Linked DNA regions of Homo sapiens: region 1 is linked to region 2. Evidence: fine-mapped QTL for protein levels in blood plasma. A gene starts in region 2. The other region holds a variant in brackets. All regions are shown on one strand. Distances are between the middles of the regions. Region 1 overlaps SUSD1 (sushi domain containing 1). Region 2 holds the start of SUSD1 (sushi domain containing 1).

Evidence for each region. PIP is the posterior inclusion probability: the model's chance that the variant is causal. Protein levels are from antibody-based Olink assays in UK Biobank. Linkage for the fine-mapping came from a reference panel and not from the study's own genotypes, which makes the PIPs less certain.
Region 1: its variant is fine-mapped to the plasma level of the SUSD1 protein (UK Biobank, PIP above 0.99). The variant lies in the coding sequence of SUSD1. If it changes the protein, the assay may bind it differently, which can mimic a change of level.

The regions. Positions count from the first base shown.
Region 1 is chr9:112,114,749-112,130,939 of GRCh38, forward strand. SUSD1 (sushi domain containing 1) reads right to left here. Exons shown (of 17, transcript NM_022486.5): 6 at 9,509-9,688. Among named protein-coding and RNA genes, the nearest start is that of SUSD1, 52 kb to the right of the region's middle. RefSeq lists an enhancer at 5,746-6,317. The variant C/T (reference allele first, on the strand shown) is at 9,541.
Region 2 is chr9:112,170,696-112,186,886 of GRCh38, forward strand. SUSD1 (sushi domain containing 1) reads right to left here and starts at 4,602. Exons shown (of 17, transcript NM_022486.5): 1 at 4,438-4,602. The coding sequence starts at 4,540. It also overlaps the pseudogene RPL29P20. RefSeq lists a silencer at 4,061-4,720 and an enhancer at 10,354-10,503.

The sequences.
Region 1 (16,191 bases), 56 kb before region 2:
CAGCACATGCCATCTGGAAGTGCAGGGGAGTTAAAATCCTGTGGGGACAGGAGCTGGTAGAGAAATCCTTCCTCCTTTCTTTCCTCTGAAGGGCTGTCCAACAAAGACTTAGTTTCTTCAGCGTCTAAGGACACTGTCACACAGATGTGGTAATGCCCACCCTCTGTGGAGACCAGTACAATCAGGCATCATACGCTGACTCTCCTTCTTTCCCTGTTTTACTGCCCTTGTTTCCCACTCCTGGTGCCTGGGATTTGATTCTCTACTGCATAATAAATATAAACCCAGTGAAAGGCTCCCATCTAAGAAGAGTGAGAAAGCTATTTCTCCATGTCAGAAAATGACTCTCCACAACTCAGCTCCCGTTTCTCCCTTCTAGTAAATCTCTTCGCAGTCTCCAAGTGCAAAAGGAAGCCTGCACCTTAGGTACCTGTAGGGCCAATCCTATTCTCCTGTACTCAGAACCAATGCTAGCTTTGGATTGACCCAGATCTACTGACCTCTCTGCCCAAAGAAGAGTTTATATCTTTACTAAATCATCCCTTCAGCAGCAATGCCTAGATTCTGTGTCCCACATGACCTGGTCTTGGGTAAGCCCAAGTTATCTATTAGCAAGTGAAAATCAATGGAGGCAGAGAGGGAAAAATAGGCAAACTCCTGCCGAGATACCAGAAAGGCCACCTATGGCTGTCTGCAGCATTCCTGGATCTCTATATCAGTATTTCTCCCTAGAACACACACAATTTGAAATCAAAGAAATACTCCAATTGTGGGCCAAGTGGGTGCGGTGGCTCACGCCTGTAATCCTAGCACTTTGCGGGGCTGAGATGGGCATATCACTTGAGGTCAGGAGTTTGAGACCAGCCTGGGCAACATGGTGAAACCGCATCTCTACTAAAAATACAAAAAAATTAGCCAAGCGTGGTGGTACATACCTATAATTCCAGCTACTTGGGAGACTGAGGCACGAGAACTGCTTGAACCTGGGAGGCAGAGGTTGCAGTGAGCCAAGATTGTGCCACTGCACTGCAGCCTGGGCGGCAGAATGAGACTCCATTGCAAAAAAAAAAAAAAAGAAAAAAAAAAGAAAAGAAATACTCCAATTATGAGCATGGGTACCCTAAGAGACACAATGACCTTCAGTTCGCCCCCTTGGGTAGCATAAAGATGATGTTGGTACCAGTCTTTTATCAGCCTGAACAAGCCCCAGATATTTCTGGCCTCTACCCTCTTTGCTGCCCTTCAAAGCCCCAGAGCTCTTGGCATCTCTGCTCACTTACACATCCCTTTGATGCTAACTCACCACCTGGTCCAGAAAGAAAAGGCACCAGCCCAGCCCTCATCTTCTCTCTGAGTTGCCAGCAAAGCGAATTTCCTTTTTACTCTCAGTTCCTTTGTCATCGAAGCAGAGATTAGAAAGGAGTTTTCTTTCTTGTCCTTCCTTCTTGCTCATTCACTATGACAACTGTAAATGGCATCTCAAAGATGCCATCTGCCTCCAGCCTGTGCCATGCTCTCTGCACAGATGGGACCCAGATCCAATTATAGGGGTGTCAGATATTTCATCCCAGGGAGCAGTTTAACAAAGTTTGGTTGCTTTTCCCTCCAGGTGCCTACAAATTAGTTGGAAAGACTCCTTTATAAAAGAATCAGATATTCAACATCTACATTAATGCTGCCCTTTTAATGGAGACTATATGCCCTCATTCCAATAGTGCTGATAACTGAAAACATTTCTGGAAGTCCTCTTTGGAGCTGTCCCAGGGCTCTTTCATTCCCTGCTCACTACTAACTGAATGGCTATCAAATGCCAAGCATCCTGCCATGCCAGGCACTGGGCTGTGACGATGTTATCTGCTGACTATGTAGGGAAAAAGTACTCTTGAAAGTCATAGATCTGTGAATGTTAGTTGAAGGTATGGGTGCAGGTGAGATATGCAGGTAGGACAGAGACAGTGAATGGCCCAATGGCAGAACACTGGGAAACACTGAAACCCAGGGGGGAACCAGAGGAAAAAGGCAATGCAGAAGAGAGGCAGGAGGCTGGTAGAGTGACTGATGTCTAGGAAGGAAAGGAAGGACTTGAAAGAGTGTCTCTCAGCCTTCCAAGGCCAGGCACAGTGGCTGACACCTGTAATCTCAGCACTTTGAGAGGCCGAGGCAGACGGATTACTTGAGGCCAGGAGTTCAAGACCAGCCTGGCCAACATGGCAAAAACATGTCTCTACTAAAAATAGAGAAATTAGCCAGGTGTGGTGGTGCACACCTGTAATCCCAGCTACTCAAGAGGCCGAGGCACGAGAATCACTTGAACTTGGGAGGCGGAGGTTGCAGTGAGCTGAGATCGTGCCACTGCACTCCAGCCTGGGTGATACAACAAGACTCTGTCCCTAAAAAATAAAAATAAATTCTTTTAAGAAAATTATCAGCCTTCTTTCCCACCAGTCTCCCACAGCCTCCTCATCCCCTAGCCAAGAAGGGCCTGGAGCAGGTCAAGGCAGAGGGTGCAAACTCCATCTCCCTCTCTCCTCTCACATGGCTTTTCTCCCCTCATGGAGTGCCCACGGCATCAGGATTAGATCTGTGGTTTGACTTTGGGTAGAGGTGGGAAGAGCAGGCCCTCAGCCTGCCCAGTTGTAGAACACAGAGGCCTCTCTGGCTTAAAAGAAGGAGGCCCCCACAGTGTCCAGCTGAAGTCTCACTGGATTTGGGGAGAGAAAGTCTCAGTGAGTGATAAAGTAAGAGCCTTTGTTTTGCTTTACTCTATGTGTGTGTGTGTACACACAGGTACATATATATGTTATGTATATATAGATATAGATGTACATAATGTTATGTATTTTGGTATTTTGTTAGCATCTAGTATTTCTGTATGTGGTACTTAACACACTTGTAACTAAATACGTAAGTCATTATATAATGACCACCTCTCCTGAATGTAACTTTACGATGGCAAAGACCATGTTTCTCTCTCTATCCTCAGGCCCTAGCACAGTGCCTTAAATATAGATACTAAAAACTATGTATTATTTGGTTGAACTGGTTGAATGGATGGATAAAGGATCAACAATGCTAAATGTTGTGGAAAGGTTGAGAAGAATGACAGCTGAAACTGGAACATGAAATTGGCAGTTAGGTAGTCATCAGTCACCTTGGTGAGATGCTACAGTGAAGTGGGGGTGTTCGATGCCTGGTTTCCCCCCAGTAGGCTGAGAAGAGCATAGGAGGGGAGGGAATAAGACAGTGAGCCCAGACTACTCTTTCAGAAGTCCCACTGTGCAAGGACAGGGGCTGGTCTAGTGTACTCCCTTGGTTTCCAATTTTATATCCTTTTTCTTTATTTTTGGAAACAGCAAAAGGTCATAGAGAATAAATCCAGGTGACCCAAACAGATGGTCAAGCAAGCTCAGCATCATTTCTAGTCAAAACAGCATCTGATTTCAAAAGGAATGTAACTGATCTTCTAATACGGCTCATAAACTACCTCCAAAGGACATTATCAAATAGGATTCCAAGGCAAACACATGATGATAATGGCAGCACCACAGAAATCAGGGTATGGCTTCCCACAGTGCCTACTTGAATAAATGTATGTTTGGCTATAAAAGTTTTCATGTGTTTCCTTTCTTTCTTTGAAGTCTTAGATTCACATAAAATAAGTAGGAGTAGCATGGCTTAGAGTACGTTAGTGTAAAATATATTGCACACTTTGGGATGATTTTTGGTGGCACGCGAATACTTTTTTTCTTTTTTGGAGACGGAGTCTTGCGCTGTAGCCCAGGATGGAGTGCAGTGGCATGTTCTCAGCTGACTGCAACCTCCGCCTCCTGAGTTCAAGTGATCCTCCAGCCTCAGCCTCCCGAGTAGCTGGGACTACAGACGCGTGCCACCACACCCAGCTAATTTTTGTATCTTTAGTAGAGACGGGGTTTCACCATGTTGGCCAGGCTGGTCTCAAATTCCTGACCTCAGGTGATCCACCCTTCTCGGCCTCCCAAAGTGCTGGGATTACAGGCGTGAGCCACCGCGCCCAGCCAGGAATACATTTTTATCTGTTCGTTATGTATCAGTTTTTGTGTATATCAGAAAAATACACCTACTTCATCAAACTCATGAGATCACATATATTGTCCTTAATAAATTTGAATTATAAATTTAAGGTTAGGTTGTTTAAGGAAACACTCTAAGTAAATAATACTCTTATTATGGCAAACATTGTGTCAGGGTGGTATACAAATAATTCAAGCTTGGAAGACACTGATGTAGGAGAAAGAATGTGGTCTTTCTGGGCTTACAGGCCTCAGTTCAAATCCTGGCTCTACCATTTGCTAATTATTGAGTGACCATGTAAAAGTCACTTAACCTTTATGAGTCTCAGATTACTTATCTATGAAATGAAAATAACAAAGCTTACTTCAAAAGGGTTTTAAGAGGATGAAATGAAATCGAGCATTAAGGTCCCTAGCTGAGCCCTGGGTGTGTACGTTCATGCTCAGCCAGCAGTAGCTATAATGCTTGATGGTCCAAACCTCATTCACATATTCCAATACATCCGGCCATGTGGCTATTTATGTAAATGTATCCATTTATTCCGGCTGACCTTTCTGTTCCATCTGAAATGTGTGTGGCTGCAACTGAGCACCCAGTGGGCTGGAGAAGAGGGTCACCAGCCAAACAGAAGGGACAGAGGCCAACAGGAGTCCTGGAGGCATCAGAGCAGTGCCCAGAGCAGTTTAGAGGCACAGAAAGGATCCTAGCGATAAACAGCCTCTGTTCCAGCAGAGATGTTACCCTTCTGAGAGCGTGGAGTGAGTGAGCGTCAGCCTTATAATCATTAACTCAGATTCTAAACATGAAAAGCCAAATGGCCTGTGCAGAATGGAAGCCAGGGAAAGTCTTATCAAGAATGAATCAGTCTCTTTGATCTTGAGGTAAACCGACTCATTAACATCAAGCTTCCACCTGGGGTTTTTCCAGACACGAAAGTGATTGCCTAATTCCCAGCTGTCTGGAGTTTCCAGTCCAAACTGGCCTGGCGGGGAAGGAGGGGGCAGGAAAAAATAAGTCCCACCAGCTTGATAGAGCTCACACCCCATTAAAAGCACATACGATTTGTGCTACTAATCCCAAAGACTAGTGGCTTCCTTACAAACAACCCAGGTAAAGATAAATTATTCTACCCAGTTTGGAACTAAACAGGAAGATGAACAGTGAAAACAGGACAGAGGTAGGAGGCATTCAGAGAGAAGCAGAAAAGTAGAAAAAGATGAGAGGGGAAGCCAAACGTGAACACGAAGACAGGGAAATATAAAATACACAGAGGCAGGAGGATGGCTTGAGGCTAGCAGTTTGAGACCGGCCTGGGCAACATAGTGAGACACCCGTCTCTACAAAAAACATTTTTAAAATTTAGCCATGCGTGGTGGGTCATGTCTGTAGTCCCAGCTGCTTGGGAGGCTGAGGCAGAAGGATCGCTTGAGCCCAGGAGTTGGAGGCTGTGGTGAGCTGTGATCACTGCACTTCAACCTGGGTGACAGAGTGAGACTCCATCTCCAACAACAACAACAAAATACACAGAGACAGTTGGGATGAGGGGAGTGAAGAAATAGGTAACAAGTGAAAAACAGGGAAAAGAAAAAAGAAGAGGGGTAGCTGAGCAAGAGCCATGGTAATCAGCAGCTCTCACTACATTACCAGAAGCCTCTCCTACCTACCCACCCAGAGATCATCTGCACTGTACCATGAATTAATCAGCATGTAAATCATCCCCTTTATCTGCGGAAATTGAATTTAGCTGCCAATCCTGATTGAGGGCATAAAGGCCTCCTCACAGAAAGATCACAGCTCTCAGGGAGAATGCCTTTTCTTTTCTTAAATCAAAGCTTGCATAAACCCATGGAAACAGCTGCAGCTGGAGCCACAGACTTTGTGAAAGGTAGCAGGCTGAGGATGGTAATTATAATTAGCAGTTACATAACATGTTTGTTCTTCAAAGTGCTCTACAAGCATCAGCTAATTAATAGCTTACTATGCCCCATGCAGATCCACTGGTTTTTCATGCGGTGACTAATTCTTATACCCCCATTGACTGCTGAATGTTGGAGGCAGAGCAGCTTGAGCAATGAAGCAAATGGCTGAGGCTCACAAGCTATACCCAGCTCTTACCAAGTGACTCCAGCAGTTGTTCTGTGTCGGGAATACTTCCCCAAACATTGAATTCAGCATTCCAGGAGGCAGCTACCTCACCTCCTCCAAATAACTCTTGGAGATGCTTTTGCAAATGCCATGATAGGTTGGAGTGACCATCAGTCTAGTCCAGCGTGGCATTAGCTCCAATTATTAAGACTGGACCCCCCTAGAGTCTTTGGTGTCAGTTACACGTTTGCCCTTGCTCCTCTGTGCAGGCTGGGCAAGTCAATGAGACCTCTCTAAGAGAAGACTGCATTGTATCTCTGGGTTCTTATCCAGCTCTACCCTTCTTTGTTTTTCTGATTGCAGTCTCTGGCCTACATCCTCTTGAATTCGCGATGGAGATAACCAAATATAGGAATTGCATGGCACATACAGGGCCTCAACAGCAGAGGTGAGCTTTCCATCTATCCCAAGAATGCTTTACTCAAGGATTTCAGAGGTCCAGGAACACCTTGCTACTTGTAAAACATTATATGTGTATGTGTATGTGCATACCTTTGGGGAAAAGGTCTGTTTCCCCTGTTGCACTGTAAATTCCAAGAGGGTCATGCCGACAAAGTACCTGACAAATAGTGTATGCTAAATAGATATCTATTGAATGAATGGACAGATTTCCTCAAATTCCCATCCCCAACATCGTTATGAACCACTGCTCTATGGACAAATAATCCCCAGGGGCCTACATGTCTTGTTTGCTCTGGCCAGAATTTCCGATGGAAAATGTTGGTGGGCAAGACCACAATTCTGCTGCTAGTCAAACCAGAGACCCAGATCAAAGCTCCTGGAGATTTCACTCTTCAGAGACCTGTCTTCAGAGCCAAGCAAGTCAACAGCCAGAAATATATTCCCAGGGACTATGTGACAACCATTTGTCATACCTTCTGATCAACCACCACAAATGGTAAGAATCATTGCCTTTTCTCACCTTGTTCCTCAGAGGCAGAGGTGTGAAATGAATCATGTAGAAGTACACGCTTCTGATTCATGAGAAGATCTTCACATGAGGCTAACAACTTTAGGAAAAAGACTAACATGTGCATGGTGCTTTCAGCTTTCTAAAATGCGCCCCACAGATTATCTTATTCGATTCCTTTTCAACACTCTCTGAGGTAAGAAAAACAGACTTTATTTCCCTCTTTTATAGATGAGGAAACCGAGGCTCAGAATGCCTGGCCTAATGACACACAGCTAATATATGGCATTGCTAGAATATGAAGTGAAGTCTCAAAACTCCTTTTTTAATTGAGACAGAGTCTCGCTCTATCCCCCAGGCTGGAGTACAGGGATGTGATCTTGGCTTACGACTGTCTCCTGGGTTCAAGCAATTCTCCTGCATCAGCCACCTGAGTACTGGGGACTACAGGTGTGCACCGCCACACCTGGCAAATTTTTAATTTTTTGTAGAGATGGGGTCTCTCTATGTCACCCAGGCTGGTCTTGAACTCCTGGGCTCAAGCAATCCTCCTGCCTTGGCCTCTCAAAGTGCTGGGATTACAGGTGTGAGCCACTGCACCCGGCTAATTTTTGTATTTTTAGTAGACATGGGGTTTCATCATGTTGGCCAGGCTGGTCTTGAACTCCTGACCTCAAGTGATCCACTGCCTCAGCCTCCCAAAGTACAGAGATTACAGGTATGAGCCATTGCACCAGGCCTCAAGACTCCTTTTCACCAGCAATTCCACTTCTGGATATATATCCAAAAGAATTGAAAACAGGGTCTCAAAGAGAGATTTGTACACACATTTCATAGCAGCATTATTCATCATAGCCAAAAGATGGAACACACACCCAAGTGTCCATCAACAAATGAATGGATAAACAAAACATGGGATACTCATATAATGGACTATATGAAGAATGGAAATGTTGACACATGTTACAACATGGATGTATCTTAAAGACATTATGCTTAGTGAAATAAGCCAGTCTCAAATGAACAAGTACCATATGAGATACCTACAGTAGTGAAATTCACAAGAGACAGAAAGTAGAAGGGTGAGGTTCCAGGGGCTGTGGGGAGGGGCAAATGGGGAGTTGTTGTTTAATGGGTATAAAGTTTCAGTTTTGCAAGATGAAAAAGTTCTGGAGATTGGTTGTGCAACAAGATTGGTATACATAAACACTACTGAACTGCACACTTAAAAATAGTTAAGATGGTGTATTCATCAGTTTCATGTTGCTATAAAGGAATACCTGAGACTAGGTAATTTATAAAGAAAAGAGGTTTATCCAGCTCATGGTTCTGCAGGCTGTACAAGAAGCATGGCACCAGCATCTGCTTCAGGTGAGGGCCCTGGGAAGTTGACAATCGTGGCAGAAGGTGAAGAGGGAGCAGGCATGTCACACAGCAAGAGAGGGAGCCAGAAAGAGAGAAGGAGGTGCCAGGTTCCTTTTAACAATCAGCTCTCATGTGAACTAAGAGCAAGAACTCATCACCAAGGGGAGGACACAAAGCCATTCCTGAGTGATCTACCCCCATGACCCAAACACTTCCCACCAGGCCCCACCTCCAACACTGGAGACCACATTTCTCATGAGATATGGAGGAGACAAACATCCAAACTATATTAGATGGTAAGCCAGGCATGGTGGCTCACACCTGTAATCCCAGCACTTTAGGAGGCCTAGGCAGGCAGATCACTTGAGACCTGGAGTTCGAGACCAGCCTGGGCAACATGGTGAAACCCCATCTCTACTAAAAATGCAAAAATTAGCTGGGCATGGTGGTGGGCACCTGTATTCCCAGCTACTCGGGAGGCTGAGGCAGGCGAATCACTTGGTCACTGCAACCCAGGAGGTGGAGGTTGCAGTGAGCTGAGATCGTGCCAGTGCACTCCAGCCAGGGTGACAGAGCAAGACTCCATCTCAAAAAAAGAAATAAAACTATATTAGATGTTAAATTGTATGTTTTTTGTGTGTTAACACAATTAAGAAACATTAAAAAACTATTTTTCGTCATACCACCTTTTCTCTGAAAAGCGGTCAACAGGTGTTAAGTTAGGAGCATGCCCCTCTGAGAAAATGGTTCATGGAGAAAAATGTCTCAGACAGTCAAGCAGAGGGGACAGGAATCACAGCGATTTAAGGTGGGTCTCAAAAGATGGATGCATAACATTTTCTATCCAACTTATTTTTCCAATCCACCTTCTAAATCTTCAGGATTTAGCTGACAAATCTAAAGCCAGGTGCACAACCAGGTAAATAGCCGAGCTGGGTACAGTATGTAGAGTGAAGCAGCAATCAGATAGTTTTAGGCCCTCGGCTCCCACTGGCTGTTTTGTTCCTGGGTAGCAGGAGCCCAGAACAGAATCTGTACCTGTGCATGTTAAAGTACTTTCTCTCCAGGTG[C/T]CTTTCTCTGTGCAAACAGAAGTGATCTTTCCTCCAGGGCTCTCAAAGCCCTCTTGACAGACATAGCGAGCCACACCGCCCAGCCTGGAGCTGTGATTTCCTACCAAGATGGCGTGCCGCATTTCTGGAGGGTTGCCACAGTTGATCTCTGCAATGGGAACCAAGACAGCACTGGTTATAAGCCCTGACTTCCAGCCCTACAATTCATATCTTTAAAATAAATATTTAATAGTGATAGAGGCCACTCAAACAGGAAAAGAGAAAACACTAACCCCATCAAATAATCCAATATAAGTATGTCTGAATTTAATAAAATTTCCAAACATGCACACATAGAGAATAGTCAAACTATGCAATTATTTACTTATAAAGAATTCATTGATCTATGAAATAATATATCTTAGGGTCCTTCTAAATATTACAGTTCTCTAGTACATTTTACTATGTATCTTCAGATCATCAATCCCAGAGTAGATGATAACGCAATTGTAGCAATTATTGCCAACTGACTGTTAAATAGAAGATATTCAAAATCTCTGAACTTTTTAAAGCAAATTAATGGAGAAAGTATTTATCTCCTAAGGATTCAACTTATATGCATCTTTCAAAGAAAAAAATCAGTTGCATAGGAGGAGACAAACCCGGAATTACAAAATTGATACGAAATTTTTTTCTCTACAACTCTGACTACTAAAAGACAATTAAATATTTACAAAGAACTATCTACAGGTAAAAGATTATGACATAACCACTCTAGACCCAGCCAAACTATACTTCACTTAAGAGCCCAAGAAAGTCATTTTTAGATATTTCAGAATTTTAAAAAATCGATCCGTTTATCTTTTCTGGGAAAAAAAAATCGAAAAAATGAATCAGAACAAATATCGTAAGAATAAGTGTGCAGGGCAGACAGGTTTTACAGAAAACACCAAGGAACAATGAAATCAGCAAGATGTATGGATGTCTCCATAATCGTTTAAATGTGACTGTAGAGCTTGACATAACTATTAGTAAAGGATTCTAGAACTAAAAGTTGAACAATGTAAAATAATAATAAAAATAAATTTTCAAATTATTTCAATAAAACCAGAGCAGTGAGTTGAAGGGAAGAAGTAAAGCATACTAATGTTTCATGTCACACAATAGCACTCATGGATACAATGTTATTCAAGAAAGTATAATAACTATAAAATAAGATGGCTCTAATAATTTCAAGTGTCACCAATAGTCCCAGTTATACCTAAACGCAGAAAGAAAAAAAAAATCTGTTCTTCCATGGTCAGAGAAAAAAAAAGAAAGAAAAAAACTTGAGGCATTCATTCTGATTTGTGATTTTCTCCCCAATCCGTAGAAAGCCAAGAAAATTAAGCCCTCCTAACATCCAGGCTTTTTAAACAGAAGTCCTTTTATTGAGATAACAGCATTCAAACTAGAGAAAATCATATAACCTGTTTCCATATCCCCATCAGCCATCCTTGGCCTTAGAAATAGATGGCTTCTTTTAAATGAGCCTCTGATACAGAATGTGTGGATTTAATGCAACTGCACTCTTTTACATCCCATTATGGATGCTTGGGCTGTTGCAGGACTCCAGAGTTATTTCCAGGAGGGAGGTTTCCCAGAGCAGGATCTCATCTAATTTCCAACCCTGTCTATCTCTCATGTCCCATGTTTGCCCACAGAGCTTTGGTTCCCTTTTCATGCATATTCACCAGACACAAGACCCCTTGGCCCTCATCATGTTTTCCCAGCATCAAACCTTTAGACGTATTTAATGGCCCAAGGCATTCCAAGAATGAATATATTTGTGTGTACACAAGCAACCAACCAAAGAGATGGTTAATGTTTCATAAGACTGCCTAGTCACATTGTTGACATCTGAAACATCTTCTAATTTAAGACAGAGTTCAGTTACAGCAGGAAGTAGAGGGGACATCACTAAAGAGGTTGGAGGTATAGATTCATGTACACTGAAGGTGGAAGGTTAAAGTGCTCAGTGGAGAAGTCTGGGAGGGAACCCAGTGACAAGTCATTGGATTAGGAGAGAAGCACAAGTACAAAAGGGATAAAAGTACAAAAGATAACTAGATTGGCTTCCATCTTGGACGTGACCAAGAATAATGGAAGGCATGATGACTTTGGTTGGGACTGCAAGATTTTAAAAAAAAATTAATACCAAATATCACCCAATTGATAAGAAATCAGTAACTTGTTCTCTAGGGATTAAGGCTCAAAGGCTCAGGTGGATGCCCCTTTAGGAAGCAGCTTGGACCTGTGGCTCTGTGAGTTCCCCGTTAACAGAGCTATTCAAGTTGAACAATCCCTCAGCAAGAGACATTTAGAGAGGATTTCAGCACGGCTTGGATTAAACGCATGGTTCTAACAGCTATACGTCTGAATCCCCTGGGAAGCTTTAGAAAAACGCACGTGCTGGAGTCCCACACCCACCCAGAGATAACTCTTCTGATTCAGTAGTACTGAATTGGGCTCTTGGTATTCAAATTTCTACAAAGCTCCAAATTTCATTTTGGCGCACACCCTCAGCTGACAATCTGAATGAAATCCTGGTACAAATGGCTACCATTTGTCATCATATGCATTCCAACAGGATCCTAAGTATAAAGCATTAATAGTCAAAATACCCATCCATGTTAAGGGGTATTTTCCCCACTGTACAGGCAAAGACTGCTCAAAATGATAGAATGATACATCCAAAGTTACACAGGCAATTGTGGGATGGCCAGGAGTTTAAGGCATGTCAGTCATATTCTTTTCCCTACACCCACAGCTTCTCGAAAGTTGGCCGGGCACAGAGGCTCACACCTGTAATCCCAGCACTTTGGGAGGCCGAGGCAGGCAGATCACTTGAGACCAGGAGTTTGAGACCAGCCTGGCCAACATGGCAAAACCCCATCTCTACTAAAAATACAAAAATTACCCGGGCGTGGTGGCACATGCGCCTGTAATCCTACTACTCAGGAGACTGGGGCACAAGAATCACTTGAACCCATGAGGCAGAGGTTGCAGTGAGCTGAGATTGTGCTACTGCACTCCAGCCTGGCCAACAGAGTGAGACTCCATCTCAAAAAGAAAAAGAAAAATGCTGTTCCAACTCTGAAATTCTATAGTCCCCGTGCCTCCCATCTCAGCTTACTCTCCTCTGCTTTTGCACTCACACCTTCTTCTGCAGGTGCACTCTTTCACCCTCACACTGAGCAAAGTCCTTCCCCGTGCCTGATCTGCTCCATTACTAACAAAGGGATCCTGTCTTCCTCTGAACTTTTAAGATCTATGTTCATTCGTTTATTTATTCCTGTCTATTGAGTGCCTATTACATGCTAGTCATTATAGCAGTGAACAAAGTGGGTAAGATTTCTGCCCTCATGGAGCTTAGGGAGAGCCAATAGGCAAAAAATAACAATAATAATAAGTCAACACATAACTGTGATTGTGGCAAATGTTATATAGAAATAATAATAACAATTATTATTAAGTGATAGGATGGGGAAAACTTCCATTGTTGTTGTCGCTGTTGTTGTGATCTCACTCTATTGCCCAGGCTGGAGTGCAGTGGTGCCACCACAACTCACTGCAGCCTTGACCTCCTGGGCTCAAGAAATCCTTCCACCTCTGCCTCCCGAGGAGCTGGGACCACAGGCATGTACCACCATGCCCAGCTAATTTTTCAGTTTTTTGTAGAGACGGGGTCTCTCTGTATTGCCCAGGCTGGTCTCTTACTCTCGGACTCAAGCAATCTTACCGGCCTCAACTTCAAAAAAACTTTTTTTGTTTGTTTTTTGTTTATTTTTGTTTTTGTTTGTTTTGAGACAGTCTCACTCTGTTGCCCAGGCTGGAGTGCAGTGGCACGATCTCAGCTCATTGCAACCTCTGCCTCCCAGGTTCAAGTGATTCTCATGCCTCAGCCTCCCAAGTAGCTGGGACTACAGGCATGCACCACCACACCCAGCTAATTTTTTGTAGTTTTAGTAGAGATGGGGTTTTGCCATGTTGCCCAGGCTGATCTTGAACTCCTGAGCTCAAATGATCTGCCTGTCTCAGCCTCCCAAAGTGCTAGGATTATAGGCGTGAGCCACCATGCCCGGCCTACAATCTTTTTTTTTTTGAGATGAAGTCTCACTCTGTCACCCAGGCCGGAGTACAGTGGTGCAATCTCGGTTCACTGCAACCTCCGTCTCCTGGGTTCAAGCAATTCTCCTGCCTCAGCCTCCTGAGTAGCTGGGATTACAGGTGCCTGCAACCACGCCCAGCTAATTTAGTATTTTTAGTAGAGACAAGAGTTTCATCATGTTGGCCAGGTTAATCTTAAACTCCTGACCTCAAGTGATCCTCCCAGAAACACTTTTTAAATAGAGTAGTAGTTAGAATGATTTGATCTCTCTGAAGAAATGACACATACATTAAGACCTGAAGGATGGCAATGAGCAAGCCATGTTTGGGACCAAAGGAAGAATATTTCAATCAAACGAAAGAACCAATGCAAAGACCCTGAGATAAGAAAGCTCTTGGTGGGTTCCAAAAAGGGAAAAGCAACCTGCATGGCAGGAGCCTAGTTAGTGAGAGGGAGACTGGCATGAGATGAAGGTGGAGAAAAAAGCAGAGCCAAACCACACAGGGCCTTATAAATCTTGGGTTTTATTTTAAAAGCAACTGAAGCTCTTGTTGGGTTTTAAGTACGGGAATGAAAAATCTGATTTAGGTTTTTAAAAGACCACTTTGGCTGTTAGGTAGAGAAAGGTTGGGAGAAGAATAGGAATAAAAAAAGAGACATCAGCCAGGGTCTACAGCAGTAGTCCAACAGAGAGATGATAGGGTCTTGGATGGACTTCAGAGGGGATGGAAATGGAAGGAAGAGATGGATTTGTGATGTATTCTGGAAGCAGAACTGAATGTTCGTGGTGATAGTTTGGATGTGAGGGTGAGAAGGGGGGTGGAATAAAGACTATTACCTACACTTAGAGATATACGAAGTATAGAGTATTATCTGTTCTTTCTGTTGTTTCAGGGGATTTTGTTTTGTTTTGAGACAGGGCCTTACTCCTGTCGCCAAGGCTGGAGTGCAGTGGCACAATCACAGCTCACTGCAGCTTCAACCTCCTAGGCACAAGTGATCCTTCCAGCTCAACCTCCTAAGTAGCTGGGACCTCACACGTGCACAACCATATATGGCTAATTTTTGTATTTTTTGTAAATATGGGGTTTCACCATGTTGCCCAGGCTGGCCTCAAACTCCTGGGCTCATGAAATCTGCCCACTTCGCCCTCCCAAAGTGCTGGGATTACAGGCGTGAGCCATCACTCAGCCGAGTATTATCTATCCTTATACAAGCATTATCTATACTGTTCATATGACCTTTATTTCCTGCCTTGCAGATTTAGTGTCTTTTTATGAATACATGCCTTCCCGAATATATGGACAGTTCCTCAAGGACAGAGTCTTTGTCTTATAATTCTTGTACCTCCACAAGGTCCGCTTAAAATCGTATGTTTTACACCGTTGTTCATTGATAGCTTGCTACTACTTTATCACAGTTCAAGATGCAATAAATGCTGCTACGATATGCCAACAGCCCCTCAGGAAGAAACCAGACATCAGCAGATCATACGTCTAAATAACAGGACAGACATTACTTCCATATTTATTATCCAACACAGGTAATTCACACATACCAAACACCAAGTAGATGAGAGCTGAGAAAAAGCCCCACAAAAACCAGTATTAATCTTGTGCCAGGGAATTATAAGAAAGTTGTTCAGGCCTCAGTAATTTTAATAATAATAGCATTCAGCCAGGCATGGTGGCTCACGCCTGTAATCCCAACACTGGGAGACCAAGGCAGGAGGATTGCTTCAGCCCAGGAGTTCAAGACCAGCCTGGCAAACATGCTGAAACCCTGTCTCTACTAAAAATACAAAAATCAGTCAGGTGTGGTGGCGCATGCTTGTAATCCCAGCTACCTGGTAGGTTGAGGCAGGAGGATCGCTTGAACCTGGGAGGCAGAGGTTACAGTGAGCCAAGAATGCACCACTGCACTCCAGCTTGGGCAATAGAGCGAGACTCCATCTCAAAAATAAAAGAAGGGGAGGGGAAGGGAGGGAACGGGAGGGGAGGGGAAAGAGGAGAGAGGAGAGGGGAGAAGGAAAGGAGAGGGAGAGGAGAGGCAGAGGAGAGGGAAAGGAGAGGGAGAGGAGAAGGAAAGGAGAGGGAAGGAAAAGAAAGAAAAGAAAGGAAGGAAAGGAAGGAAAGAAAAGAAAGGAAAGAAAGGAAAGGAAAGGAGGAAGGAAGGAAAGGAAGGAAAGGAAAGGAAGGAAAGGAAAGGAAAGGAAAAGGAAGAAAGAGAGAGAGAATATAGCATTCATTGAAATACTCCCAAACACAAGGTAGTCTACCAGATATACACTACCTTATTTATTACAACAGAAAATCCTACAAAGTAGCCAGGCAAGGTGGCTTACGCCTGTAATCCCAGCACTTTGGAAAGCTGAGGAGGGCAGATCACTTTGAGCTCAGGAGTTCAAGAGCAGCCTGGGCAACATCTCTACAAAAAAAAAAAAAAAATACAATAACTAGCCAGGCATTGGTGGCTCATGCCTGTAGTCCCAGCTACTTGGGAGGCTGAGGTGGGAGAATCAC
Region 2 (16,191 bases):
TATATATATATATATAGAGAGAGAGAGAGAGAGAGAGAGAGCCTTGCTCTGTCACCTAGGCTGGAGTGCAGTGGCATGATCTCGGCTCACTGCAACCTCTGCCTCCCAGGTTCAAGCGGCTCTCCTGCCTCAGCCTCTGGAGTAGCTAGGATTACAAGCGCCCACCACCAGGCCCGGCCAATTTTTTTTGTATTTTTAGTAGAGATGGGGTTTCACCATGTTGGCCAAGCTGGTCTCGAACTCCTGACCCCAAGTGATCCACCCACCTCGGCTTCCCAAAATGTTGGGATTATAGGCGTGAGCCACCGCACCCAGCCCATATATTAAAATAGAAGTCTAACCCACAATCTGCAGCAATCATTCCAGGAACTCTGTAGCAATCAGCCCCAAATGGTCAGGCTTTAATCAGTAACGGCCAGCTACGCTAATTTTTGCCCCCAATTCCAACTTGGGACTAACCAGAAAAGCCAGATATGGCCCTCTCACCAATCACATGGGATGCATGCTGCTAGAAAACTTCTCCAGCTGGGCGTACCTGAACCACCACCACCCCCAACCCCCTTCCTTTTTCTACTGTAAAACTTTTCCACCCCCAGCCTATCTTTGAGTCTCTGCCAAATGGAAGTGATGATGGCTGACTCCCTTGTCACAGCAAGTTCTGAATAAATAGCCTTTGCTTATTCTTGTTTGGATGGTATTCATTTATTTGCCTACCAGATTCCTAATACAAGCCACTGTCCCTACCCACAAGGAGCTCTTAGTTTAGTAAACAATCACACTGCAATATGGTATAAGTGTACAACCAAGGCACGGAATATGGTATTACTGGTGCTGTAAAGAGAAGCGGATAGTGGCAACGGACTTCCTAGGAGGAGTGAGGACACCCAGGCTTGCTTTGAAATATGAATAGCACTCATTAAGTAGCCCGCCATGGGAGAAGGGAAACACAGTCCTCTAATCTTCTTCCTCGCCCCCCACTTTAAGAAACTAACCTCCCCCACTTATAGCCCAAGTTTAATTTTTGACCTGCTCTGTCCATTAACTATCTCATTTATTTTTGCTTTTTCATTTTTCCCCTCTCTACTAAATAATACCCCTCAGTCTAAAATATGTTTGAGTCTGTTTTGCATTCTCTAAACATCTTGGACTGACTTGACCAGCCCAGCTGAATGCTACCTTCGTTTTCCTTCTAATTTCTTTAAAGAGTATCTACTCCGAGGCCAGGAGCAGTGGCTTATGCCTGTAATCCCAGCAATTTGGGAGGCTGAGGCGGGCAGATCACTTGAGGTCAGGAGTTCGAGACCAGCCTGGCCAACATGGTGAAACCCCATCTCTACTAAAAATACAAAAATTTGCTAGGTGTGGTGGTGCATATCTGTAATCCCAGCTACTCGGAAAGCTGAGGTAGGAGGATTTCTTGAACCCAGGAGGCAGAGGTTGCAGCAAGCGAGATCATGTCACCGCACTCCATCCAGCCTGGGCGACAGAGTGAGACTGTCTCAAAAAAAAAAAAAAAGAGTATCTACTCCGTAAACAAGGTCTCTGCCCTCAACCTAGAGCCCTCACATCTAGCTCTCACCCTCTCTCCTCTACTAGCTCTGGGTCTCCACTGACCAGATCCATCCAATTCAAAGGCTTTTTCTCAATCTCTGCCTCTCGGCTTCCCATCTCCTAGTTTCCTTGACTAAATGAGCCTAGTCTTTCTCCATCCTACCCAGATGCTGCTTCTTCCTTCTCGACTTGCATCTACCATCTAAACTCCAAGAATCCTCTCCAAGGATCTGTCTTTCATCCTCCCAATCTTGTCAACTTCAAGGTTTCAAGCAACCATCAAGTCTATTGATTTCATCTCTCCAAATCCATAACAGCACCTCAAATTCAGGATGTCCAAAACAACTAATCATCTTTCTTTCCAAATCTTTCTCCTTCCGTAGAAACATATACCAAGTCACCCAGCCCCCAAGCCTTAGTGTCATCTTTCCCCTTCTGTTCCCTTGCACCTTCATATCTGTTATTAAATCCTTCCTTCCAGTCCATTTCCACCTTACTGTCTACATTCAGTCCGTTTCTGCTGTCATTACTGTGGGCCCAGTCCTCAGAACTTCCAGGCCAGCTATTGCAACAACTTCCTCAATGGGCTTGTCCAAGCCTCCAGTCTTTCCCTACATTGTCGACTGTCAGGAAACCTGCCCTTCATAAAACCAGGTTCTCCAAGGTTGAACATGAAGGGAGAATGTCTAGATAAGGAGAGGGGGCTCAACCAGGAAGCCTTGACTTCTGTTTCCCCAAATTCACCCCCAAAACCTTTAGTTACAGATGACCTTACGTAGCTACTAGCTGTGTTCAGCCATCTTAGTCTAACAATTCAATGGGATCATACTGGACAGTTTCCTACCTTAGAGATATCACAGGAAGATCCTGAAATAGACGCCAAGCATCTGCAAGTCCTATGCGCACTGTTCTCGGAGATAGAGCCAAGGAAGGAATCTTAACCAGGGCACCTAATATTACAAAAATGGCCACTCCAGAAGATCAAGCCATTGAAATACCCATCAGGCATGGTAAAAGTCCCAAGCCAAAGAGAATGGGGGTGGGGGCGGCAGGCAGGATTCTCAACCACAAGTCTCCTTGTATGTCATCACATGGAAATTTCCTTCCACTTCAGGATCAGCGTTTGGTTTTAGTAAGGAAGATGGGGGTTCCTTAGACCCTCTTTCCCCCGCCTCAAGTTTACTTATACAAATAGCAAAGGAGGACATCAGCCCCATGCAGATGGCAGTCCAAGGGGGACAATCCTTCTGTCCTCACGTTGGCAGACACAGATCTCTACTCTGAAGGCTTTGTAGGGGCCTGAGCTCCTTCGGGAGTCTGAGCTGGAACTGAAGCTGGAGCTGCAGCCTGAGCCTTGGTTTGATCCTTGACCTTGGTCTTTGGCTGGCACAGCCTGAGCCCCTTGGCAATGCGGGCACGAGCACGTTTCCCAAGCTTGAGGTGGGCAACGTAGGCAAGAGCTGACACCCTTTGGAATCTTGGGCTTAACCTCCTTGGGGTTTATGAGGGCAAGGCCTCAGCACGTGCACTCATGGCCTTGGCACTGTCGCCCTGCATCTTCTTTAGGCCCCTCTTATTGTGCTTCTTGGCAAACCGCATGTTTGTCAGGAACTTGGGGTCCACCCCTTTAAAAGATTCGTATCTTTGTGATCCGGGTTTCATGATGCCGTTTCTGTGCCATTTTCGGGACTGGTTGTGTGTGGTGTGGTGCTTGGATTTGGCCATGTCTGCACTGTAACCTGTGGCTCCCGAAGCGCCTAGAACTGGCTAGACCCACTTTTCTTGTCACTCCCTGAGACGGCTTCCAGTGGCTTCCAGGCACAGCTAAGTCCAAAGGCCTAGGTCTGCCAATCAAGGCACTCTGCCCTCTGCCTCTGGTGCCTCCGTGTGCTTCCTTCCCTTCTCCCCCGGGCCTGAATTCTGAAGGAATTCATTCATTCTACACTCATTTGTGGAGAGGTGACAGTGCCTTCTGCTATGAGCTGGGATACCTTTTTCACATTTTCCCATATCCAAATATGACCAATCATTGATGGCCCAGCTCAAGGGTCACCACCGATTCCCCTTTCCCTGCCCTCACCACCCACACCTTCTCATGGCACCCATGCCATTCTGCCTTGTATTACAGTTATGTGGATGAATGTCACCTCCCCTGCGTGTCTGAATCCTCTGTGTAATTCCTACTCAGCTCAACACTGCATTTTGCAGAGGAGGAAAAACAACTCCCTCGATTGCTTGGAAATAGAACATTTGCTGGTCTAAATCCTCCAGACAATGAGCTCCACGAGGGCCCGCACTGCCCGCCCTCATCGCGCACAGGGAAGCTGTTCAAGGGCCATCTGTTGAATGAATGAGTGAATTAATGGCTTCACTCCTGTACTCTTCCTTACGCGTCTTTCTCACCATATTTAGCATCCGGCTCTCTAACAACGTGAAAAAATTAAAAGTGGTAAGAAAATTGCTTCGGGTCAAAAATGTGTCATGCAAAAGCCACCGCAGAGCCGGAAGCGTGACAGCGCCGCAGAACGCCCTGGCCTCCCCGCCCTTCCCCGGGCGCCGCCCTGCCCGGGTCCGCGCTCGCGCCCAGCCCCCACCCCGCCTCCTGGGCAGTGGAGGTCCCTGGGGGCCCGGCCAGGCCGCCTTAAAACCGGCGTCCCCCGGCGTCGCGGGGTCGGGCGGGGGCAGGGAAGCCCGGCGGGGAGCCCCCCGCTTCTCTGAGCTCCTCCTTGCCGATCTCCAACGGCCGGCGCGGGCCCCACCTGCGCCCCACGCCTCGGCACCGCGCCGGCCCGGCCCAGGGGCGGGGAAGCGTCCGTGCGCCCAGAGTCCTCGAGGCCCAGCCGGGGGCCCCGCCGGCCGCCCGTGCCCGTCCCAGCCCGCACTCACCGTCGGGGCCCGGCGCTCCCGCGGCGCCGCGGGCCAGGCCGAGCAGCAGCAACAGCGGCAGCAGGCGGCGAGACGGGCCCGCATCCCAGGGCCCCCGGCCCATGCCGCCGCCGGTCCCTCCCGGCGCGCCCGCGCCTCCTCCCGGGGCCCTCAGGGTGCAGAGATAAGGCTACAGGCGCCGCGGGGAGGGGACCAGCCGGCGGCTTCCGGCGCCGCCGAGGGAAGCGGGGGGCGCTGCGGGGTCCCCGGGAGGCCGCAGAGCGCGGGTCCTTCCTCTTGTCGGGGCCTGGGCTTAGGACACGCCCGTTCCGCGTCCGTCTCTGGCTCCGCACTTGCTGCCCTCTCGCCGCTCACATTCGCAAAGGGGGACAGACACTCATCGGATAATGACACAGCTGGACGCAGAGCCCCGGAGAGTGCTGGGGAGGAAATGTTGCGGAGGATTCAAGCCACTCGAGGGCTCAGGGAGGCACCCCCGGGGAGAGGGGTGAGGGGAGCAAGGGGCGGAAATCTTCCAGGACGTGAAAGGGAGCTGGATGAGGTGACCACAGCGCAAGGCCCAGATGAGAGGTCGGAAGACGCAGACCCAGGCCACCCAGGGGCGACACACTTGACCAGGTGACACCTGGTCACCGGGAGTGAGAGAGAGTAGGGCTGTGATGGAGGGAGGGGCTGGCATCAGTCCCCGCTGCTCTGAGGACACCCGGCTTGGGACGCGCTGATGCCAGCCCCTACCTCCATCACAGCCGTACTCATCCCAAGGGAAGGAGTAAACCAAGACCCAAGGATGAGAAGGACGTTGGGGAGGAATCTAAGCGGGAGTTTGTTGTAGAAATGGGGAATGGGGACCTAGAGTGAGAGCAGAGGGTTGGAGAGGGGCGTTGAGCTGCAGAGGGAAGTTAGCCCTCCTAACCCAAGTGATGGAGGTCGCCGGGAAGCTGTCACAGTTTCAAGCAGTGAATGACTTCATCACTGACACATCTCTGTCTGTTCTGTGGAATTGGGATTGGGGTTGGGTTGGGATGTGGAAGGCAAAGAGTCCAGCCCGGAGTTGCTGCAGGAATCAGGCAATAGAAGACATGTCCTGGCCCGGTGCGGTGGCTCACGCCTGTAATCCCAACACTTTGGGAGGTCGAGGCGGGTGGATCACTTGAGGTCAGGAGCTCGATACCAGCCTGGCCAACTTGGTGAAACCCCGTCTCTACTGAAAAAAAAAAAATTAGGTGGGCACGGTGGCAGGCACCTGTAATCCCAGCTACTCGGAAAGCTGAGGCGAGAGAATTGCTTGAACCCAGGAGGCGGAGGTTGAAGTGAGCCGAGCTCGCACCACTGCACTCCGGACTGGGCGACAGAGTGAGACTCCATAGACAGATAGATAGATAGATAGATAGATAGATAGATAGATAGATAGATAGATAGATAGACAGACAGACAGACAGACAGACAGATAGAGATAGAGATAGATGTGTCCTGCAGCTGGGCATTGACAAATGAGTGTGAAGAGGGCAGTGTGTAAGAGTGGAATCCACTAGGTTTTATGACTAGTCGGGGAGAAGGAAATAAATAAGATCCGGTTTGAAGGCTTTGAGCTTGTGATGTCTGTGGGAGCGCAGCCGAGAGCAGGCACCCCACTACTTCACCCCATATCCTCACTTGTTTACTCTCTGCCATGAGCCTGCCGTAAATCTCACCACTTTCAAACACACCCATATAAGGGCTAAAGTTGTGGAGTCTTAACAAGTAGTTAAAAATCAACTTCAAGCTGGGTGAAGTGTGGCATGCCTGTAGTCCCAGCTACTAAAGAGGCTGAAGGGCAGGAGAATTGCTTGAGTCCAGGAATTCAAGGCCCATGTGGGCAATACAGTGAGACCCCCTCTCTTAAAAAAACAAACAAACAAAAACAAACAAAGAAAAAGCTCATCTTCCTAGGCTCTTTTTTCCTCTTGGGGAGACAAGGTCTTGTTCTGTTGCCCAAGCTGGAGTGCACAGCTCACCACAGCCTCAACCTCTTGGGCTCAGGTAGTCCACTAGCCTCAACCTCCCAGTAGCTGGGACTACAGGGGCGCAGCATCATGCCTGGCTCATTTAAAAAATTTTTTTTGTAGAGACAAGATCTGGCTATGTTGCCCAGGCTGGTCTCCAACTCCTTGGCTCAAGCAATCCTCCCACCTTGGTCTCCCAAAGTGCTGGGATTACAGGAGTGAGCCACTGCATCTGGCCTCACAAGCTCTTTTCTTAGCAGGCTTTCTTGAAAATTATTTTTGATCAACAAAGACAGGCACCTGTTTGGGGAGCAATAGATGGACGGTGTGTCTCTATTATTTAGACAAATTTTTTAAGTTCAGCTCTCCATAAACTTCAAACTTGGAAATCATGTCATTGTTTCAACAAATATACCATTCACTTAAGATTTTTAACCAGCCTATACCACTTCATCCCCACTGTGGCCCCTTGCAAAATAAATAAACTTAAGTATATATGTATATACATTTTTTATTGATAATGTCAGGAAAATTTGTCCAAAACTTGGAAATGGGCAAAAGAGATTACTGGGTATCCTTTCAGTGGGGTGCTGGGTGCACCGTCGCTGGACTTCCTATTGACTAGGCTATTTTGCAGCACTAGAGGGCTAGAAGTTAACTTGCCGAAAACTGATGATAATGTAAAAGATTTATGTCCATAGCAGTGAAAATGAATGTTTTCCAAGAGAAATATAAGTGATCAGTCCTTTCTGCCAGAAAATAAATAAGTTAAACCCACTAATTTCATTTTGTCCTATATGATACTAACTAGTTAACCAGTTTGGCACCTATTAGCAAATTCATGTGATCATTCCTGATGTTGGATTTTCCTTTGAACCTTAACATCTTGCTAGTTCTCCTTTGAGATCAACAACTTACTGAGTCCTCCATTAATCAATTGAATAGAATCTTAGATATGTTTTCATCTTATAGTTGCATAAGTCATGTTTTCAACTTTTTGAAAATTATATTTCAGGACAATCCATCTTACTCTATATTCCACATTAGATTGCTTGACTTTCATCAATTCTTTTCATTGGCTCATTTTTAAATTTCAAATACATATTTTTGGTTAAAACAATACTTCTTACTCAATGGTGAGTTCATTGGATCACATAATGAAAAATTATCTCCTCATCCAACAGTATTTGTCACAAGAATTAAAACAGAATCTTGAACCAGTGTTAAGTTTGGAGGAACAGTGGGATTATTGCTGACAAAGTATTTGACTTAAGAAAAATGTTCTTTCAAGAGAGCATGGTTAATATACCAGCATTTTCTAAAAAAGAACTTGAAAGAAGCTTTCTTCTCCTTCTCCCTCTCCTCCATTTCCTCCTCATTCTTCTTCTTCTTTCTTTGAGACAGGAGGATCTCACTGTGTCACCCAGGGTGGAGTTCAGTGGTGCAATCATGGCTCACTGCAGCCTTGACCTCCCAAGCTCAAGCGATCCCTCCACCTCAACCTCCCAAGTAGCTGGGACTACAAGCACATGCCACCATGTCCAGCTAATTTTTTAAAAAAAATGTAGAGACAGGGTCTTGCTGTGTTGCCCAGGCTAGTCTTGAACTATTGGCCTCAAGGGATCCTCCCGCTTCAGCCTCCCAAAGTTCTGGGATTGCAGTTGTGAGCCACTATGCCTGGCTGAGACTTAGTGTTTAGTGGGTATCGACTTTCAGTTTTGCAAGATGAAAAAAGTTCTGTGGATGGATAGTGGTGGTGATTGCACAACAATGTGAATGGACCTAACACTGAACTGTACACTTAAAAATGTTTGTTTGTTTGTTTGTTTTTGAGACAGAGTCTCACTCTTGTTGCCCAAGCTGGAGTCCAATGGCATTATCTCGGCTCACTGCAACCTCTGCCTCCCGAGTTCAAGCGATTCTCCTGCCTCAGCCTCCCAAGTAGCTGGGATTCCAGGCACATGCCACCACGCCTAGCTAATTTTGTACTTTTAGTAGAGACGGGGATTCACCATGTTGGTCAGGCTGTTCTCAAACTCCTGACCTCAAATGATCCACCCACCTCGGCCTCCCAAAGTCCTGGGATTATAGGCATAAGCCACCACACCCAGCCTTAAAAATGTTTAAAATTGGCTGGACGCAGTGGCTCACACCTGTAATCCCAGCACTTTGGGAGGCCGAGGCAGGTGGATCACGGCGTCAGGAGATCGAGACCATCCTGGCTAACACGGTGAAACCCCGTCTCTACTAAAAATATAAAAAAGTAGCTAGGCGTGGTGGCAGGCGCCTGTAGTCCCAGCTACTCTGGGGCTGAGGCAGGAGAATGGCGAGAACCCGGGAGGCAGAGGTTGCAGTGAGCCGAGATCGCGCCACTGCACTCCAGCCTGGGTGACAGAGCAAGACTCCATCTCAAAAAAAAAAAAAAAAAAAAGTTTAAAATCGTTTTTAAAAATTCAATGACAAAAAACGTTTATGCCCATTTTTATTTTTATTTTATCAAATAGGCAAATATTAAGGACTTTCCAAATTAGTTTTGGTTCTGGCAAATCTATATGGGATCAGGTTTACAAGAAAGATATCTTGGAAAGCCCCATTTTTCCCAATATTCCTGAGACATAAGTGAATGGGATTTCGGGAGAGCTCTGAGAGGACTCTGGAGAGCCATGGGTATGGGAAGGCAGAGGGCAGGCAAAAAATTTCATTCTGAACACTGGTTCAGTATCTCTAGGGAGATTTTCCCCCAAGCTGCTCTTCTCAGTGTCGGATTCCAGTGTGAAGAGGTTTGGGGTTTGTCCAGTGGGTTCCCATCTGGCTACAAGGCCAGAAGGAGAATCGAGGAGGGAGATTGGATACTAAATATCCTGGGACTCTCCTGGAAAAAAATCCATTCTTGCTTACCACACTCCTGACCATAAATGATTACAGAGACTGCTTTGGGACAGCTCCTGGCAGGCTTGCAAATTGTTATTTTTGTTTTTAATTTAATTTATTTATTTAGAGACAGAGTCTTGCTCTGTCGCCCAGGCTGGAATGCAGTGGCGTGATCACAGCTCACTGCAACTTTCAACTTCTGGGCAAAAGCAATCCTCCCTCCCCAGCCTCCCATAAATTGTAAATAAATTGTTTATATGTGGGTTTTTTAGGAATGGCTTGAATATCTAATTGTAATGAGTTTAATATACTCTGGGGTTGCACTTACTGCCTGAAGTTTGCATTAACAGAAATAATTTAAATATTTGAAGCCTTTGAAGTATATTGGCTGAAAACTTGTGTGTTTGAAACAAAGTAACAGTCCCTCTGTAACAGTCTGCTCCACCCCCACCTCATCTAACCCTGGCTGACTCGACATCTGTGAAAACCCCAAGGCCACCTTCAAAGAAGCCACATTACCCCTCCCAGAATGGAGTCATCATCTCAAGCAGATTTGTAAAGGCTGATAAGAAGGACCTGTCCCTCTGGAGAAATGCCCTTCTGATGAAGTCTCTAACTCAAACAAAGGCCAACTTCTCATTTTTTGAAGCTTAATGACTCTCAGATACTTTGCTGCTATTGGAGAAACAGTAGGATTACTCTGCCTTCTCCAGCATACCTCTCCCTCCCTTTAGACACACACATACATCAAACACCCTACCTGGAGTTAGTGTGTAGACCTTGGGCAACAAGTGCACTATTGTCTGCTGCACGTGGCTGTGCTACAACCAGTGTGTAATTTACCCAAAACGCTAGTATTCTCAGAAAAGCAAAACAAGCATGGGTGGAAAGGGACAGCTCAGCTTAGGGGACAAGTCCTGGACTCCCTATTTTTACAATAGTGCTCTCTCTCCTCACTGTAATGGACTCAAGAGACCCTGTGATCCCCCCAGCAGAAGCTGGGGCAGCAGCAAGATTTAGATTTGGACTTGGATTTGGGAGCAAACTTCAGACACTGCAACAGACAAGTTCAAGGAGCAGCAGGCTTAGTATTCACCTATCCTCCCCCGACCTCAGGTGGTGGAGACAACACCAAGTGAGACAGGCTGTGTCACCCAGTCTCTGTCTCTGTCACACACACACACACACACACACACACACACACACACAGCATCACCTTCCTCACTTGCAAAAGCCTCAGCTGTTGGTGTTTTTATTCCACAAACCCTGAAAGGAAGCCTGCTGACAGCCCATTTCCGGACCCAGGATCAGCCACCCACAGCCCTAAGGAGAAGCAGGCCAGGCAGTGGGGACCAAATCAGCAATGAGCAGCACAGTCGCTGAGGAAGCCACAACAGCTGTGAAGGCGGATGGTTCCAGACCTTCACTGATAGAGAGACCAGCTCACAGTGAAGACCCGTATCATCGACCTGGGCAAATAGTGCAATCTTCAAAACAAAAATACTTTACTCAATTATTTTGCAATGGACTTAGCTACAAGCTCTATTGGTTTCTTTGCTCGCCACTGTTTTTCATGTCCTATGTCTTCCTCTTTTCCCACTTCTCCTCCTCCTTCACCTTCTTTGGGGACGTCTTTGAGTATCTGTTTCAGAAAGTATTCCTGGGTGGTAAACTTCGAATCTTTGCAAGTCCAAATACATATTGATTTTGCCCTCATAATTTTTTTTTTTTTTTTTTGGAGACAGGGTCTTGTTCTGTCGCTCAAGCTGGAGTGCAGTGGCCCAATCTTGGCTCACTGCAACCCCCGTCTCCTGGGTTCAAGCGATTCTTGTGCCTCAGCCTCCCAAGTAGCTGGGATTACAGGCATGCGCCATCACATCCAGCTGATTTTTGTATTTTTAATAGAGCCAGGATTTCGCTATGTTGCCCAGGCTGGTCTCAAACTCCTGGCCTCAAGTGATCTGCCTGCCTCGGCCTCCCAAAGTGCTGGGATTACAGGCATGAGCCACCGCACCGAACCCCATAATTTAATTATACATTAACAGAATATAGAATTCTGGATTCAAAATAATTAAGTGATAGGTTAATGTGGTCTAGAATTCCAGATTCAGATGGAGTGCTGCAGATGGAGGGTCCCATGCTACTGTGGTTATCAACCCCTTATAGGTGACATGTCATTCTCCTATCATATCTACCAAGCTTTGGGGGATTTTCTCTTTATCCTGGGAATTCAGAAATTTCATGAGGATATAATGTTTCATTATTCTTGCCTAGCACTCAATGGACCCTTTCAATTTGTAGAATTAAGGCTTTCTACAGGAAAGACATTTTTTCTATTAATTATTTGATTCTTTCATTCCCTCAATTATTTCTATTTATCCCTTCTGGAATGCATGGGAATTTTTTTTTAATAGAGTCTCACTTTGTTGCCCAGGCTGCCTTCAACCTCCTAACTTCAAGCTATCCTCTCTCCTTGGCCTTCCAAATGCTGGGATTACACATGTGAGCCACCATGCCTGGCTGGGAATTTTTTAACACTTGCCTCTAGCCTCCATGGCTGTTAGTATTTTTCTTTGACTCTTTACTTTCTTTGCCTTCATTTACTGAATGTGGGAGATTGCCATAACTCAATTTAGTGAACTTTGTGTTCATGAATTTGATCCTTATCCATGCCGTTCTGCTCTTCATTTCATCTGCTGAAATATTTTTATATCAGCAATCATGCTTTTAATTTCTAAGAACTCTGCTTCTTTGTATAGAATGGCTTTTTTTTTTCTGTAGTTGTAATGACTTCTGTTTTATCAGGAAGTTGTTCATTTACTTGTTGAGTTTGATGACTCTTCTTCTGCTGGTTTTCCTCAAGTGTTTCATGATTTTTGACTGTCCTTATTTCTACATGAGGGTCTCCTCTGTTATGAATTAACAGTTTATGAGAATGAATCAGATGGTGATATGGTTTAGCTCTGTGTCCCCATCCAAATCTCATCTGCAATTGTAATCCCCACGTGTCCATGTCCAGGAAGGGAAGTGATTGGATTATGGGAGCAGTTTCCCCTATGTTATTCTCATGATAATGAGTGAGTTCTCCTGAGATCTGATGGTTTTATGAGGGTCTCTTCCCTCTTCACTTTCTCTTCTCTTGCCTGCCACCATGTAAGATGTGCCTGCTTCCCCTTCCGCCATGATTGTAGGTTTCCTGAGGTTTCCCCAGACATGTAAAACTGTGAGTCAATTAAACCTCTTTCCTATATAAATTACCCAGTCTAGGTATTTCTTTATGGCAGTATGAAAATGGGGCCAGGCGTGGTGGCTCATGCCTGTAATGCCAGCACTTTGGGAGGCTGAGGCAGGCGGATCACCAGCTCAGGAGTTCAAGACCAGCATGGCCAATGTGGTGAAACCCAGTCTCTACTAAAAATACAAAAATTAGCCGGGCATGGTGGCGCCCACCTGTAATCCCAGCTACTCAGGAGGCTGAGGCAGGAGAATTGCTTAAACCTCAGAAGTGGAGGTTGCAGTGAGCCAAGATTGAGCCACTGTACTCCAACCTGGGCAACAGAGCAAGAATCCATCTCAAAAAAAAAAAAGAAAAGAAAATGGACTAATACAGGTGAGTTAAAAAAAAAATGGAATCAATAATTTGGCTATATTTCTCCAGGTGAGAATCTCTGCTTTCTTAGGAGTAAATGGAGATTTGTTTACAGTGGTTCTAGCTCCAGTGGTTGTGCAAAGCAGGAGGTAGGAGTGGGGAGATAAAGAGAGTGCATTTGAGACCTCCTTCTTGGTTGCCATACTTTCTCTGGCCCCAGTGCCTTCTCTGGGAGCCTCTTTTGTATCACTATTCTCATCTTATTTGGTAAGCAATAAGCTTCATTTACAGTTATCACTTGGGCTGGTCATGGTAATCCCAGCATTTTGGGAGGCCAAGGTGGGCAGATCACTTGAGGTCAGGAGTTCAAGACCAGCCTGGCCAACATGGCAAAACCCCATCTCTACTAAAAATACAAAAAATTAGCCAGGCGTGGTGGCAGGCACCTGTAATCCCAGCTACTCAAGAGGCTGAGGCAAGAGAATCACTGAATCACTTGGATCCAGGAGGTGGAGGTTGCAGTGAGCAGAGATCGTGCCACTACACTCCAGCCTGGGCAATAAGAGCAAAACTCCATCTCAAAATAAATAAAATATAAATAAATAAATAAAGTTATCCCTTGGGGAAAAAATTCAGAACTAGCCACTTCTAAAACAGAAAATAGGTGAAGACGTTTGTAGCTCATGAATAAATTACCAGTTCACTATCCTACCGGTTCCTTTTCCCATCTCTGCTATCTCTGAACCTGAGATAATTCTGGAGTTCTAATGGGAAAATGTACTATTTTGGAGATGCTCTCTTTCTGCTTTCATGAGATTGTGGGTGCCTCAGCTCTGTTATGTTTTTATCAGTCTGATCACATCTGCTTTATGTTTTCAGCAAATCTCCTGTTTTGCTGCTCTCATAATACCATGCCTGGATTTCCAGTACTGCTTTCAAGTAATTCTGCTCCCACCCCCGGCCTCCATTAAAAAAAAAAATTGAGATGTAACTTTCATGCAGTGAAATATACAAATATTAAGTATATAGCTTATAAATTTGTACTTAAACACACACGAAATATCCACCACCCAAGCCAAGAAACAGAGCATTACAAGCTCCTTGGAAGCTCCCTCATATATTTTATCAGTCAGTCCTCCATAAGTAATCAATGTTCCAACCTGTATAATCACCATAGGTTAGTTTTGCCTGCTTTTGAATTTTATGCAAAGTAAATCACTATTTATTTTTTTGCTTGTGACTTTTTATACTCATCATTGTATCTGTAAGAGTTACATCCATGTCGTTATCAGTAGAAGTTTGTTTTCTTCATTTCTGTGTAATAGTCCAATGCAAACATGTATATGCAACAATTTACTTACCCATTCCATTGTGGATGGACATTTGGACAATTGTCCATTTTTAGCTCCAAATAAAACTGCTATGAAACTTCTTGTATTAATACATGTTTTGGGGGGTATGTACAGTGTTTATTCTGCTGGGTAAATATCCAGGATCACAGGATTTATAAATGGTCAGCTTTAGGCGTATTGCCAAACAAATTTCCAAAGCAGCTGCTGTTCACACTTCCATGACTGATGCAGAGAGTTCCAGCAGCTCCATGTCCTTGCCAACATTTGGTTTTGTCAGTCATTTTAATTTTAGCAACTTTGATGTGTGTATAGGGGCCTCTTATTGTGGTTTTATTTTCATTTCATTGTTGACCAAAAATATTAAACACATTTTCTTTTTTTCTTTTTTTTTTAGATGGAGTTTCGCTGTTATTGCCCAGGCTGGAGCGCAATGGCGTGATCTCGGCTCACTGCAACTCCAGCTCCTGGGTTCAAGCGATTCTCCTGCCTCAGCCTCCCAAGTAGATGGGATTACAGGCATGTGCCACCATGCCTGGCTAATTTTGTATTTTTAGTAGAGATGGGGTTTCTCCATGTTGGTCAGGTTGGTCTCGAACTCCCGACCTCAGGTGATCCGCCTGCCTTGGCCTCCCAAAGTGCTGGGATTACAGGCATGAGCCACCGTGCCCAGCCATTAAACACATTTGTTTATTGACCATTTTGAAATCCTCTTTTAAGACATGCTATCACATATTTTGTCCATTTTGTAAAATTGGGTTATCTTTTTCTCATTGATCTATTGGAGTTTGCTTATATTCTGGATTTAAGTCACTTGTCAGACATATGTATTCCAAATATCTTCTCCAAGCGTATGACTTGCCTTTTCACTCTCTTAATGATGTCATCTGATGAATAAACTTAACTTTAAAGAAGGTAATTTATCAATGTTTTCTTCTATGGTTAGTGCTTTTGTGTTCTGTTTAAGAAATTTTTGCCTATTTGGCGATCATGAAGTTATTCTGTTTTCTTCTAGAGTAAACTTGTAGAACTTCTTATTTTACTTTTCACACTTAGCTCTAAAATTCATCTGGAATTAATTTTTATGTATAGTGTGAAGTTCATTTTTCCCCATGTGGATATCCAATTGTTACAGCATCATTTATTGAAAATACCCCTCTCCCTGCCCCCCAAGAATTGCAGAGGAGCCTTCATTATGAATCAGGGGATTGGGTATGTGTGGAGTCTGCTGCTAAACTCTATTCAATTCCGTTGACCAATTTGTCTATCCTTGCTTTAATACCACTGTCTTAAGTACTGTTGCTTTATTGTAATTCATATCTGGTAGTGAAAATCTTCTGGTTTTATTTTTCTTCAATAGTATCTTGGTTACATTTTTAGCATTTTCCATTTTTACATTATATATATAAAATGTAGGCTGAGCCATGATAATCACTTGAACCTGGGAGGCGGAGGTTGCAGTGAGCTGGGATTGTGCCACTACACTCCAGCCTGGGCCACAGAGTGGGACTCCATCTCAAAAAAAAAAAAAAAAAAAAAAAAAAAAGATCTCCAGCATGGCACACAAGACCCTTTATAATCAGGTCTCTGCTCATGTCTCCATATACATTTCTACTTCCAAAGTCCCCTATATGTCACATTTAGCACTTACTACGTGTATTAAACTGTCACTTACTTGTCTGTCTTGTCAGTCTTTCCCATTAACTTATAAGTTTTGCAAGGACCTGGAGTGTACCACATTCACCAGCTATCATTGCATCTGGGCAAAATTCCTGGTACCTAGTAAGTGTTCTACATATTTGGGGAAGGAAGGAAAAATTGGAATTGATCACTGTCAGCTCTGGGTTGCCAGTGGGTATTAATATTCAGCTCACCTGTGCATCTTTGGAACAAGCTAGGGTAGAAAATCTTCAAATTAGTCATCCCTCTACATGTCTTATTTCCTGTTCATTCAAAGGCTTGA